Homo sapiens: one gene and its partners. The protein of the gene in region 4 purifies or fractionates together with the protein of the main gene of each other region. This does not show direct contact. Each region holds a gene or a part of one and is shown on either strand. Other genes may lie near its edges.

Region 1 (3,571 bases), on a different chromosome or scaffold from region 4:
CTACACAGGCTGGCTGGATTACTGGGGCCAGAATCACTCCACACGGTCTGTGTCAGCTGTAACCAAAGGACTAGAGAACATGCTCAAGTTGGGAGCCAGTGTGAACATGTAAGTAAAGACACTGGGGGCAATATGAATCTGTAGCTGGGAGCTGGGGATGAAAGTTAAGATTCAGTGAGTCAGCTTTTACCTGTTCCCCCACCCTCTCTCACTTCAGGTACATGTTCCATGGAGGTACCAACTTTGGATATTGGAATGGTGAGTCCAGATGGTCCCTGGGATAGAAGCAGGGAGGTAACAAGGAATTAGAATCTAAGGGCCAGGTGGATTAGGATGTCTAGAAGCTGAATATGGCCACCTCTGCCCCCTCTGATGGCAAAATTCTCTGCATGAAGCATGCTTAGTAGTGCCTGTCATCTGAAATACATGTTGAATTAATTAAATTGGCTCAACTTCAGGTGCCGATAAGAAGGGACGCTTCCTTCCGATTACTACCAGCTATGACTATGATGCACCTATATCTGAAGCAGGGGACCCCACACCTAAGCTTTTTGCTCTTCGAGATGTCATCAGCAAGGTACCCTACCATTTCATTAAGCTCCAAAGGCTTTTATTAATTTGGAGGAAGGGAGTGCCCACATTGTAAAGGTATCCCATAAATTGGTGGTTATTGTCTGGGCCACAGAGCCTTCTGAGCATCCCACTGAGGCATTTCCCATTCAACCAAATGGGACTATGTGTGAAGACACACAGGTGTGCAAAATTATTGAGCCTCCATGATCCCTGAAGCCCTTCCCTGGGCCCCAGGTTAGGAACTCTGCCCTAGAGTCTTGGAATAGGTATTGTTTTCTGTGGTTTTCCTATGGATCCTGAGAGAATCTGGGCTCAGTTCCAGGAAGTTCCTTTGGGACCTTTACCTCCCCCGAGCCCCAAGATGATGCTTGGACCTGTGACTCTGCACCTGGTAAGTTCCTCCACATCTTTTCTCTTATACCACACCTTTTTTTTCTAAATAGCCTATTCTTTCTTGTCCTCTATCCAGAAACTTCCCTGATATTCTAATTCTTCTCCCTTATTCTAATAGGTTGGGCATTTACTGGCTTTCCTAGACTTGCTTTGCCCCCGTGGGCCCATTCATTCAATCTTGCCAATGACCTTTGAGGCTGTCAAGCAGGTAAGGCATAAACCCACATCTGGTGGAGATGACAACCTCCCTTAACAGCTATACGCAAAAGTTCCTTGGCTATAGTCACAGTGTCCTCTTTTATTTCTGTTTGTCTGAAGTACTCATTCTTCCATACCCAGGACCATGGCTTCATGTTGTACCGAACCTATATGACCCATACCATTTTTGAGCCAACACCATTCTGGGTGCCAAATAATGGAGTCCATGACCGTGCCTATGTGATGGTGGATGGGGTGAGAACCTAATTCCAGGCTGTGAGCCCCAAACTCCTCCCTTCCCCAGGAAGCGTTAGCCTTAAGTTCCCCATATTTACACTTTCCCACCTGCCTGTTCACGTTTGCAGAGGGTTCCAGGGATAAGCTGGGATGAGGAAGAGTTTGATTAAGGATAGAATTCTAGAATAGATGGGTGATAGATGGCTACATTCTCTCTGCCCTCCAAATAAGTATCCTAATGTGTGGTTTCCTATGCAGTGGCTAAGAGCTAGATGCTGAGCCTTGCTCCTATCCTATCTCCTATCCACAGGTGTTCCAGGGTGTTGTGGAGCGAAATATGAGAGACAAACTATTTTTGACGGGGAAACTGGGGTCCAAACTGGATATCTTGGTGGAGAACATGGGGAGGCTCAGCTTTGGGTCTAACAGCAGTGACTTCAAGGTGAGCTAGCTTTGCCTAGTTATATCCCAGGGCTTGATTAAGGATAACTTAGCTTCAAAGCTTAGTGAATGATGACTTTTCATTTTCCTTCCCTATAGGGCCTGTTGAAGCCACCAATTCTGGGGCAAACAATCCTTACCCAGTGGATGATGTTCCCTCTGAAAATTGATAACCTTGTGAAGTGGTGGTTTCCCCTCCAGTTGCCAAAATGGCCATATCCTCAAGCTCCTTCTGGCCCCACATTCTACTCCAAAACATTTCCAATTTTAGGCTCAGTTGGGGACACATTTCTATATCTACCTGGATGGACCAAGGTATTGGTAATGGTGGTGGTTTGGGTAGCGGGGAGGTAAAAGAGAAAAATCACAGAAGGAGGGGAGCAGAAAGTATCCTCTGATTAGAAACCCAAAAGGGTATGATTCTACCCCTGGAGAGCTGACCCTTTCTTTTCCCCTCTTTCCTGCTCCCTATTCCCCAGGGCCAAGTCTGGATCAATGGGTTTAACTTGGGCCGGTACTGGACAAAGCAGGGGCCACAACAGACCCTCTACGTGCCAAGATTCCTGCTGTTTCCTAGGGGAGCCCTCAACAAAATTACATTGCTGGAACTAGAAGATGTACCTCTCCAGCCCCAAGTCCAATTTTTGGATAAGCCTATCCTCAATAGCACTAGTACTTTGCACAGGACACATATCAATTCCCTTTCAGCTGATACACTGAGTGCCTCTGAACCAATGGAGTTAAGTGGGCACTGAAAGGTAGGCCGGGCATGGTGGCTCATGCCTGTAATCCCAGCACTTTGGGAGGCTGAGACGGGTGGATTACCTGAGGTCAGGACTTCAAGACCAGCCTGGCCAACATGGTGAAACCCCGTCTCCACTAAAAATACAAAAATTAGCCGGGCGTGATGGTGGGCACCTCTAATCCCAGCTACTTGGGAGGCTGAGGGCAGGAGAATTGCTTGAATCCAGGAGGCAGAGGTTGCAGTGAGTGGAGGTTGTACCACTGCACTCCAGCCTGGCTGACAGTGAGACACTCCATCTCAAAAAAAAAAAAAAAAAAAAAAGTAACCCTTGGACCTGGGACATGGAGTGGGCAGGATCCCTTGGTGCTGGCCACGGTGACCCTAAGGAACTAAAGGCCACAGTGCCTCTGAATGTAAGTACAAGTACACATTCCTTGCCAAACTTTATTGTGATTAAAATTCCAGAGACAGTACCAGCTCCACATACCTCTAGCCCTGTCTTTGCCCTAGTTCCCGAGTGTCCTTCACCCCCATCTTCCAAATCATCTCTGGTTTCACGGGGAAGAAAAAACCTAGGGCTGCTGTGAATGTGCCCTCTCAGGTCCCTGAGTTGGCCCCAGGTAGAGCTGTAAGAGATCAGGAAGAGGGCCTCCCTGCCTGACGGCGATGATCCTGGAGGCAACGTGTGGAGCAGAAAGAGAAGTCGAGGTAGTGAAAGGGAGTCAGGCCTTGGAGGGATGCCCCACAACTCCAGCAGCGTCTGAACAAGAGGAAGAAAAATGGCTGGACAGGTACCCCAGAAACTTTCCAATCCACGCTCTCCCCGTCCCTCCTCCTGCCATTTCTGTTTTCACTGCAGCATCTGCCAGAACATCCCAAATTCCCTCAACCACCCTTCTGAATACTGTGCAGGTACTCATTTCTCTTGCCCCCAATGGTCCCTGCAACATTACAGTCCACCCACTCCCTCATCCCGCACCCCAT
Region 2 (3,897 bases), on a different chromosome or scaffold from region 4:
CCCACCTAGGCTGGGTGTCTAAAGTAGGTGAGGTCATCACTGCAGGATCCTTGGGGCCTGACCTGCCCCCTCCCACGTGTCTCTGCCTCAGTTTCTCTGAGCATTGAGGCAGTGGCTGGTGCTGTCCTGTGGCCAGGCCCAGAGGCTGAGTGCCCAGGGGGTCCAGGGGCCTTGCTGGCCAGAGAGAGTGGGTAGCCCATTCTACCCCGAGCCTGTGCACGCGCAGGGCTGCCAACACCTCCTTCCTTCCCCGCTTGGCCCACGCAGGACAGGGGGCGTGGGGGCCCCAGCAACTGGGACCTGCCTGAATCCGCCTCCCTCCTGAACCCCCCTCCCGCCTGAACCCCTGGCCAGTCTTGTGTCACACGCTTACTTCCTTAGTTTTGTCTTTAAATCAGCCGTTTTACATTGGAGTCCATTTACTGGGAAAGGAGACCTTGCATCCTTGCCTCCCACCCGTGGGAAGAAGCCCGGCCGACAGGGCTTTGAGACCGGACCCGAGTTTATTCCCAGAGACCCTCCCGCGGGTGGGCGAGCTCCGAGGTCTGGAGAAGAGGAGGCCCCGGCCCGCACCCTCTAGCACCTGTGTCCCCTTCGTCCCGGCCACAGATGCAGGTTCTCCCAAGAGGCGGGTCTGTACCCGCCCCGCGCCCCCAGCCCAGCGGGCCCGGCCTCCGCCCCTGCCCCGCACTCCCACCCCCACCCTCAGGAGAGCGCGGCCCTGCTCCCCACCCCGCGCGGTCTCCCCCCACCGCCTGCGAACCCCCATGCACGCGCGGCCCCGCCCCGCGCACTCACCAGGCCCGGCAGCCGCGCGGTCTTAGCGGCTCACGCGCTCGGGCCCAGGGGCGGGGACGTGGGGACCCGGGCGGCCGCTCAGCCGCGGCCGCGCGGTGAATGAGCCCGTTGTGCGGCCGCCGCGGCCCCAGCGACACCCCGCGCGGGGTCTACAAGGGCTGACGCGCCCCCGCGGCTTCCGTTCCCGGGCTGGGCGGTGGCTCGTCTGCGTCTCCGGCCCTGGGGGTGGGCTGCGCGCTCCATCTCGCCGGCCCAGTCCCCTCCCCAGCGTCGGTCTCTCAAGGCCCCTCCCAATGGGGGCCAGGCGGAGGGTGGGCCCTCGGGCCTGTGGACTGACCCCGGGGTTCCTGGGCCTGGGGGCGGGGATCCCTGTCCCGGGCTCCCCTCGCTGCGAGGCTGGCCCTGCCAGATGACACTCAGAGGCGCCTTGGGTGTCAGGCCAGGGACATCTCTGATGCTGGGGCTCCCCCCGCTAGGGTCAGGGGCTGCCGGGCTATCGCCTTGGGGTTCTGCAGAGAAAACCTGAAGCCCAGCTGGGTCTTCACTTTCCTCCAGGTCACCGTGCCCCGCTACTCCAACTCCGTGGGACTTTGGAATGCACCTTCTGGGCATTTAATTCTTATCCAAGTGCCTCTTAAGTTATACTTCTTTGCTACCAGTGTGTCCTTTGGATGGAGGGGAGGAGAGGTGGTAGGGGCCGGGTGGGGTGGACCCCAGGGACTCCTGCTGCTCCTGCTGGACACCCAGCCCGGGGTACAGGAGCAGGTGGGGACCAGCAGAGGCGGGGCGGAGCAGGAGCCCACACCCAAAGGCTGTAGACTCCTGCCAAGGCTCTGCCTTGATCTTGTACACCATGGGAGGACCAGAAGGGAGGCGTTGAGGTGTCCAGACCTTTGCTGTGGAGCTGGGGGTGCTGTGGCATGGGGAGACTGACAGACGGGGAGCTGTATAGGGCCAGATTCCGGTCCATGGTGGTAACCCCATCCCCCACCACTGCAGATGCGGCACAAAGCCAGCTGCCACAGGAGGTGCACTGCCCCACGGGCAGCTGTGCTCACCTGCGTGGCGTCCGCAGGAAGCCCTCAGACCCTGGCCAGCCTGGTCTCTGCTTCTCACTCCAGGCTCAAGGCTGGCTGCTATTCCATTCACCCCATTCCCTTTCCCTCAGGCCAGAAGCATCACTCACAACTCCAGACCCTTGCACACCAATCTCCTCACTCAGTTCACCCTCAGATGTCCAACTCCACATGGCCAAAACCGAGACCAGTCTCACTCCAAGCTCATCCACCCGCCTAGCTGCCCAAGCTGAAATCCACAGTTGCCCTGTACGACCCCCCGACCCCCCACCTCACCCCCCAGCTCACCTCAAACCTCATCAGTCCCTCTGCTCACAGCCTGCACAGCCACCACCCAGTCTGGGCACCATACCTCTCTGGGCAACCCCCATGGCCCCCAGCCAGTCTTCCAGCTCCCACCCTGACTCCAGTGAGCTGCCAGAGGGATCCTTGAAAAATGCTCTGGAAGCCAAGGTGGGCGGATCACGAGGTCAGGAAATGGAAACCATCCTGGCTAACATGGTGAAACTCCGTCTCTACTAAAAATACAAAAAAATTAGCCGGGCGTGGTGGCGGGCGCCTGTAGTCCCAGCTACTCAGGAGGCTGAGGCAGGAGAATGGTGTGAACCCGGGAGGGGGAGCTTGCAGTGAGCCGAGATCGCGCCACTGCACCCCAGGCTGGGCAACAGAGTGAGACTCTGTCTCAAAAAAAAAAAAAAGAAAAAAGAAAAATGCCCTGGCACTGCTCAGCTCAGAACCTTGAAAGGGATCCTTGTTTCGCTCTGGGTCAGGGTCCCATCCTCAAAGCAGTCACTTCCAGAGCCCCATGGAGCCTCATATCCCATGATATCCACCCTTATTCTGTCTCAGGCCCACCAGCTGCCTCCCTGCTGCCTGATTGTCATGTGTGCATTCCTGTTCCAGAGCCTTTGCACTGGCGATGCCATCTGCTGCCTGGATGTCTTCCTGCTGGCTGGTCCCGTTGCATGGTAGCCTTAGGTGTCTCCTCAGAGAGGTCCCTCGCTGACCATCAGGCTCCTCACTCCCTGTCGTATCCCCTTCACCAAAGATTCCCATTCCCTGACGACGCCTGTCCCCTCGGAATGCAGGCCTCGTGGGAATTCAGCCCATCCGCAAGTGCAGTGGCAGGGCGGCCCCCTTCCCCCTTGACGACGCCTGTCCCCTTGGAATGCAGGCCTCGTGGGAATTCAGCCCATCTGCAAGTGCAGTGGCAGGGCGGCCCCCTTCTCCCTTGAGGACGCCTGTCCCCTCGTAATGCAGGCCTCGTGGGAATTCAGCCCATCTGCAAGTGCAGTGGCAGGGCGGCCCCCTTCTCCCTTGAGGACGCCTGTCCCCTCGTAATGCAGGCCTCGTGGGAATTCAGCCCATCTGCAAGTGCAGTGGCAGGGCGGCCCCCTTCTCCCTTGAGGACGCCTGTCCCCTCGGAATGCAGGCCTCGTGGGAATTCAGCCCCATCTGCAAGTGCAGTGGCAGGGCGGCCCCCTTCTCCCTTGACGACGCCTGTCCCCTCGGAATGCAGGCCTCGTGGGAATTCAGCCCCATCGGCAAGTGCAGTGGCAGGGCGGCCCCCTTCACCCTTGACGACGCCTGTCCCCTCGGAATGCAGGCCTCATGGGAATTCAGCCCATCTGCAAGTGCAGTGGCAGGGTGGCCCCCTTCTCCCTTTCCTGTGCACTCATGTTGCCTCTTGGGGTGTGGGAGGGGAAATGGGGCACTCCTGGGCCTCCAGGAGGTGCAGAGAACCAGGGTGAGGTGTCCACCAGGTCCTGCCTGGCTCCTGACCCCTGGCCCCTGCTGCTCGCGACTGGCCTGCCTCGTGCCACTGAGCCTCAGAGCCATTCCGAACCCCCACCCCAAGTTTTCCATCTCTTGATGGTGTAGGGTTGGGGGGTCTCCATGTACAGATACTCTAGTTCATACCAGGCCTTCATAGGGTTATTTTCCAAGGGGAAGGGCCCCTCGGGAAGCCGGGATCGGAGTCCTGTGTGGCACCTTGCAGGCTCCCACATGCTCCGTTGTGGCC
Region 3 (2,610 bases), on a different chromosome or scaffold from region 4:
CTCTGTGGGGTTTCACAGCACCCTGGATCCTGCCTTCCAGCCCCTGCCAAGGTAAACAGTGCTGCCTGCCTCCTGTGGGGAATGCAGGATGGGGCAATGCCCTGGCAGCAGGGTCTTGCCTCAGCTGATGCAACTGTGGCTGCTCCTGTGTGCACAGATCATGTGCCTGGAAGGCCTTCCTGCAGCAGGGGCAGTGTCAGAAAGTGGAAGAGTGGTGTGAGCAGCTTCCCCGGGGAAAGCCTGGCTGAGCAACTGACCTTGAGCAAGCACTGCAGATGGCCCTTGTTCCTGCCGGGCTCCTCCAGCTGGGAGCTCTCAGCCCCTGGTAAATTCTGGCAGTGAAAGACACATTAGCACCTCCCCCTACAATGAGGCACCTAGCTAGACAACTTGGCTGTCCGGGCTTAACCTGCGTGGCAGGGAAGGACGCCTGCCCAGCCTTAGCCTCTACGCAATGGTGGAGGCAGGGAGGGAGAGAACCACACAGCTCCCCTCATTTCCCAGCAGCCCCCATGGAGCCTAGTCAACAGGGTGTGGTCACAGGCTAAATGAGCAAAGATGTGAGCTAATATACTGGTAGGTGTCATGGGGGCTTTCAGAGCTGGGTAAGGAGGGAAAGAGATGGAGATACTGGTTCCCCACTCCTTAACCTGCCACCTGCCTTCCCTGTCCTTTACCCTCCCTCATTCTGCTGGACCTGAGGAAAATGCAAGGGAGGCTAGGCCTAGTGGCTCATGCCTGTCATCCCAACACTTTGGGAGACTGAGGTGGGAGAATCACTTGAGCCTAGGAGTTTGAGACCAGCCTAGGGAACATAGTGAGACCTCGTCTCTACAAAAAAATTTTAAAAATAGGGCCGGGCACACCTGTCATCCTAGCACTTTGGGAGGCGGGCAGATCAGCTGAGGTCAGGAGTTTGAGACCAGCCTGGCCAACATGGTGAAACCCTGTCTCTACTAAAAAAATTAGCTGGGCATTGTGGCATGTGCCTGTAATCCCAGCTACTTGGGAGGCTGAGGCAGGAGAATCTCTTGAATCCGGGAGGCAGAGGCTGCTGTGAGCTGAGATCACGCCACTGCACTCCAGCCTGGGCAACAAGAGTGAAACTCTGTCTCAAGAAAAAAAAAAATAGCTGGGTAGGGTGGCATGTACCTGCAGTCTCAGCTACTTAGGAGGCTGAGGTGAGAGGATCAGCTGAGCCTGGGGAGGTGGAGGCTGCAGTGAGCCAAAATCACGCCACTGTACTCCAATCTGGGTGACAGAATGAGACTGTCTCCAAAAAGAGAGAAAGCACGGGGAAGTGCAAGTGCATTGATGTGGAGCTGGGCAAGGACTTGGTTTAAGGAGCTGGTGGAGCTGGCTGAGGCTGCAGCCCAGGGAGGGGAGGAGAGTGCAGTGAGGTGGGGGAGAAGTATGCCTGGGCCGTGGAGGGCGGAGGAAGGCCAAGTCTCCACTACCTCTGTCCCAGCTTCCCTGCTGGTGGCTCTACGGTTGCATCTTCTCTCCTTATCCCCTTTCTCCCTCCTATCTCTAACCCAAATCACTTTCTGTGCTTCAGACCCGTAATTCCAGTTGCCCAGTGATATCACAACCTGAGAGAGATCACAGGCAAGCAAAAAACACTCAAACGTGTGTAAAACCAAACTTTCATCTCCACCTTTCCGTGTTCCACCTCTGTTAAGGGGGACAGCAAGCAGCTTGAGGCTAACGCTTGTTCTTTGATGACCTCCTTTCACTTCTCACATCCATCAGTTACAGGGTTTTTCAATTGTGCCTCCATAACTAATTCTTAAATCCTCCTTTCCATCCCTTCTCCATGATCCATAAGCTCAAGTCCATGCAAATGGCAGACAAAGCCCTCCTCACCTTAGCCAGCCTTTCATGCCTGTGCTCCTCTGGCGCACCCAGGCCTAGACACTTCCCTTCCTTGCCAAGTGTCTGATGATCACTACTTGGTCTTTATTTGCTCAGAAGCCTCATCCTCCCTCTGAAGCCTTCTCCTTAGAACTCAGTCACTCCTCCATTAGCGCTTGCCACACTGTCCTGGAACCGAATACACGGATGCCCCTCAGACCACACAGAAGAACCATATCTTACCATCTTTTCATGCTCCCTGCACTTAGCACAGTCTCAGTAAGTGTGTGTCAAGAGGGAACAAGAGAGAATGGGTGGCAAAACTGGACAGTGTCTTTTCTGTGCAGACCTTTGGGTTGTGAGGTTGTGACAAGGTCTCCTGGAAGAGAGAGAAGGTCCACGCCCCTCAGCCTCTATTCTTCCAGGCACTAATGCATTGGTTTCAGCGGTGAGATAACATATATGGAAGCTAAATATAAACAAATGGGTTAACAAGCTCTTGTCTCTTTCAGTAATCTCAGGGGCGATATAATCAATGAGGTGGTCCTAAAGTTGCTCAAGGCTGGATGGTCCCGGGAAGAAATTACGATGGAACACCTGGAGCCCCACCTCCAGGCGGAGATTGTGGAGACCATAGGTGAGTAACTGACTCAATATGCCTCTGGTGAGAGCCACAGCTGGTGATAATTAATGTGTTTGTTGGAATGTGTGTTTATGAAGCAGACAGGGTACTTGGGAACACAGAGGGCAGACTAT
Region 4 (3,823 bases):
AGCTGCCACTTGCCCTGGGCCAGTGGCCTGGAGACCTTGGACAGCCTGGGGGGTGTCCTGGAAGCTTCAGGCTACTCCACAGAGGTGGTGGCCCTGAGCAGGCTGCAGGGGTCTCTGCAGGACATGCTGTGGCAGCTGGACCTCAGCCCTGGGTGCTGAGGCCTTGAAGGTCACTCTTCCTGCAAGGACTACGTTAAGGGAAGGAACTCTGGCTTCCAGGTATCTCCAGGATTGAAGAGCATTGCATGGACACCCCTTATCCAGGACTCTGTCAATTTCCCTGACTCCTCTAAGCCACTCTTCCAAAGGCATAAGACCCTAAGCCTCCTTTTGCTTGAAACCAAAGATATATACACAGGATCCTATTCTCACCAGGAAGGGGGTCCACCCAGCAAAGAGTGGGCTGCATCTGGGATTCCCACCAAGGTCTTCAGCCATCAACAAGAGTTGTCTTGTCCCCTCTTGACCCATCTCCCCCTCACTGAATGCCTCAATGTGACCAGGGGTGATTTCAGAGAGGGCAGAGGGGTAGGCAGAGCCTTTGGATGACCAGAACAAGGTTCCCTCTGAGAATTCCAAGGAGTTCCATGAAGACCACATCCACACACGCAGGAACTCCCAGCAACACAAGCTGGAAGCACATGTTTATTTATTCTGCATTTTATTCTGGATGGATTTGAAGCAAAGCACCAGCTTCTCCAGGCTCTTTGGGGTCAGCCAGGGCCAGGGGTCTCCCTGGAGTGCAGTTTCCAATCCCATAGATGGGTCTGGCTGAGCTGAACCCATTTTGAGTGACTCGAGGGTTGGGTTCATCTGAGCAAGAGCTGGCAAAGGTGGCTCTCCAGTTAGTTCTCTCGTAACTGGTTTCATTTCTACTGTGACTGATGTTACATCACAGTGTTTGCAATGGTGTTGCCCTGAGTGGATCTCCAAGGACCAGGTTATTTTAAAAAGATTTGTTTTGTCAAGTGTCATATGTAGGTGTCTGCACCCAGGGGTGGGGAATGTTTGGGCAGAAGGGAGAAGGATCTAGAATGTGTTTTCTGAATAACATTTGTGTGGTGGGTTCTTTGGAAGGAGTGAGATCATTTTCTTATCTTCTGCAATTGCTTAGGATGTTTTTCATGAAAATAGCTCTTTCAGGGGGGTTGTGAGGCCTGGCCAGGCACCCCCTGGAGAGAAGTTTCTGGCCCTGGCTGACCCCAAAGAGCCTGGAGAAGCTGATGCTTTGCTTCAAATCCATCCAGAATAAAACGCAAAGGGCTGAAAGCCATTTGTTGGGGCAGTGGTAAGCTCTGGCTTTCTCCGACTGCTAGGGAGTGGTCTTTCCTATCATGGAGTGACGGTCCCACACTGGTGACTGCGATCTTCAGAGCAGGGGTCCTTGGTGTGACCCTCTGAATGGTCCAGGGTTGATCACACTCTGGGTTTATTACATGGCAGTGTTCCTATTTGGGGCTTGCATGCCAAATTGTAGTTCTTGTCTGATTGGCTCACCCAAGCAAGGCCAAAATTACCAAAAATCTTGGGGGGTTTTTACTCCAGTGGTGAAGAAAACTCCTTTAGCAGGTGGTCCTGAGACCTGACAAGCACTGCTAGGCGAGTGCCAGGACTCCCCAGGCCAGGCCACCAGGATGGCCCTTCCCACTGGAGGTCACATTCAGGAAGATGAAAGAGGAGGTTTGGGGTCTGCCACCATCCTGCTGCTGTGTTTTTGCTATCACACAGTGGGTGGTGGATCTGTCCAAGGAAACTTGAATCAAAGCAGTTAACTTTAAGACTGAGCACCTGCTTCATGCTCAGCCCTGACTGGTGCTATAGGCTGGAGAAGCTCACCCAATAAACATTAAGATTGAGGCCTGCCCTCAGGGATCTTGCATTCCCAGTGGTCAAACCGCACTCACCCATGTGCCAAGGTGGGGTATTTACCACAGCAGCTGAACAGCCAAATGCATGGTGCAGTTGACAGCAGGTGGGAAATGGTATGAGCTGAGGGGGGCCGTGCCCAGGGGCCCACAGGGAACCCTGCTTGCACTTTGTAACATGTTTACTTTTCAGGGCATCTTAGCTTCTATTATAGCCACATCCCTTTGAAACAAGATAACTGAGAATTTAAAAATAAGAAAATACATAAGACCATAACAGCCAACAGGTGGCAGGACCAGGACTATAGCCCAGGTCCTCTGATACCCAGAGCATTACGTGAGCCAGGTAATGAGGGACTGGAACCAGGGAGACCGAGCGCTTTCTGGAAAAGAGGAGTTTCGAGGTAGAGTTTGAAGGAGGTGAGGGATGTGAATTGCCTGCAGAGAGAAGCCTGTTTTGTTGGAAGGTTTGGTGTGTGGAGATGCAGAGGTAAAAGTGTGAGCAGTGAGTTACAGCGAGAGGCAGAGAAAGAAGAGACAGGAGGGCAAGGGCCATGCTGAAGGGACCTTGAAGGGTAAAGAAGTTTGATATTAAAGGAGTTAAGAGTAGCAAGTTCTAGAGAAGAGGCTGGTGCTGTGGCCAGGGTGAGAGCTGCTCTGGAAAATGTGACCCAGATCCTCACAACCACCTAATCAGGCTGAGGTGTCTTAAGCCTTTTGCTCACAAAACCTGGCACAATGGCTAATTCCCAGAGTGTGAAACTTCCTAAGTATAAATGGTTGTCTGTTTTTGTAACTTAAAAAAAAAAAAAAAAGTTTGGCCGGGTGCGGTGGCTCACGCCTGTAATCCCAGCACTTTGGGAGGCCAAGGTGGGGGGATCACAAGGTCACTAGATGGCGAGCATCCTGGCCAACATGGTGAAACCCCGTCTCTACTAAAAACACAAAAGTTAGCTGAGCGTGGTGGCGGGCGCCTGTAGTCCCAGCCACTCGGGAGGCTGAGACAGGAGAATCGCTTAAACCTGGGAGGCGGAGAGTACAGTGAGCCAAGATCGCGCCACTGCACTCCGGCCTGATGACAGAGCGAGATTCCGTCTTAAAAAAAAAAAAAAAAAAGTTTGTTTTTAAAAAAATCTAAATAAAATAACTTTGCCCCCTGCTCTTTGTTTCCTGTCGCCGTTCCTGGAGGGGCTTCGGGAGAGCTGTTTGTGTGTGACAGGGCAAGGCCTGGCTGGCCCCCATCCATCACTGGGGTCAGCTCCGCCCCAGGCTTGGCCACAGCCAGCCGCCAGTTATTCAGGCAAAAGGATTACCCTGTAAAGAAAACAGAGCTGGGTTTGGACGCTGAGAGGACTGGGAAACAGGTTGCAGGGAGGCACAGGAAGCACACACCAAGAGCCAGAGAGAGGCCTCTGTGCCATCCCAAGGAATGAGGACAAAGAGAGGGGTCCTCGGGAAGAAGGGATCCACTTTGGAGAGGCCCCTTAACACGGGACAGAGCAAGGACAGAAAGAGGCATCCACTGGGATGGAAGAAGGACAGGATCCACAGGGAAAGAGGGATGAGGGGAATGAAGAGAGAAGAAATAAAGAGTTCAGCATCACCTCATGATGCAACTAATTTGGCACAATGCCCAGCACAATGTACCCCTCCATTCTGATTTGGTGGCCAGAAGAATTGAGATTCTTGGGCCAGGCACGATGGCTCATGCCTATAATCCCAGCACTTTGGAAGGTCAAGGTGGGTGGATCACTTGAGACCAAGAGTTCGAGACAAGCCTGGCCAACATAGCAAAACCCCATCTCTACTGAAAATACAAAAAGTAGCCAGGCATGGTGGCACGTGCGTGTAATCCCAGCTACTTGGCAGGCTGAGGCAGGAGAATCGCTTGAACTCGGGAGGCAGAGGTGGCAGTGAACCGAGATCATGCCACTGCACTCCAGCCTGGGTGGCAGGTG

Evidence for each region.
Region 1: the proteins of LEP (region 4) and GLB1L purify together in Homo sapiens (affinity purification with mass spectrometry; one large-scale study listed by BioGRID and IntAct). This does not show direct contact.
Region 2: the proteins of LEP (region 4) and IDUA purify together in Homo sapiens (affinity purification with mass spectrometry; one large-scale study listed by BioGRID and IntAct). This does not show direct contact.
Region 3: the proteins of LEP (region 4) and TOR3A purify together in Homo sapiens (affinity purification with mass spectrometry; one large-scale study listed by BioGRID and IntAct). This does not show direct contact.

What each region holds. Positions count from the first base shown.
Region 1 is NC_000002.12:219,236,098-219,239,668, reverse strand, and holds the end of GLB1L (beta-galactosidase-1-like protein isoform 1 precursor), read left to right. Parts: coding exon 1-108; intron 109-217; coding exon 218-258; intron 259-458; coding exon 459-577; intron 578-889; coding exon 890-964; intron 965-1,084; coding exon 1,085-1,174; intron 1,175-1,305; coding exon 1,306-1,419; intron 1,420-1,711; coding exon 1,712-1,843; intron 1,844-1,941; coding exon 1,942-2,157; intron 2,158-2,321; coding exon 2,322-2,597; 3' UTR 2,598-3,071; downstream 3,072-3,571. Other genes in the region: tRNA endonuclease ANKZF1, read right to left, coding at 3,224-3,347.
Region 2 is NC_000004.12:996,647-1,000,543, forward strand, and holds part of IDUA (alpha-L-iduronidase isoform a precursor), read left to right. Parts: intron 1-1,718; coding exon of another isoform or gene 1,719-2,343; intron 2,344-2,777; coding exon of another isoform or gene 2,778-3,109; exon of another isoform or gene 3,110-3,418; intron 3,419-3,897. Other genes in the region: uncharacterized protein LOC124900646, read left to right, coding at 1,719-2,343, 2,778-3,109.
Region 3 is NC_000001.11:179,091,727-179,094,336, forward strand, and holds part of TOR3A (torsin-3A precursor), read left to right. Parts: intron 1-2,366; coding exon 2,367-2,491; intron 2,492-2,610.
Region 4 is NC_000007.14:128,254,605-128,258,427, forward strand, and holds the end of LEP (leptin precursor), read left to right. Parts: coding exon 1-159; 3' UTR 160-3,025; downstream 3,026-3,823. UniProt on the Homo sapiens protein: Key player in the regulation of energy balance and body weight control. Once released into the circulation, has central and peripheral effects by binding LEPR, found in many tissues, which results in the activation of several major signaling pathways.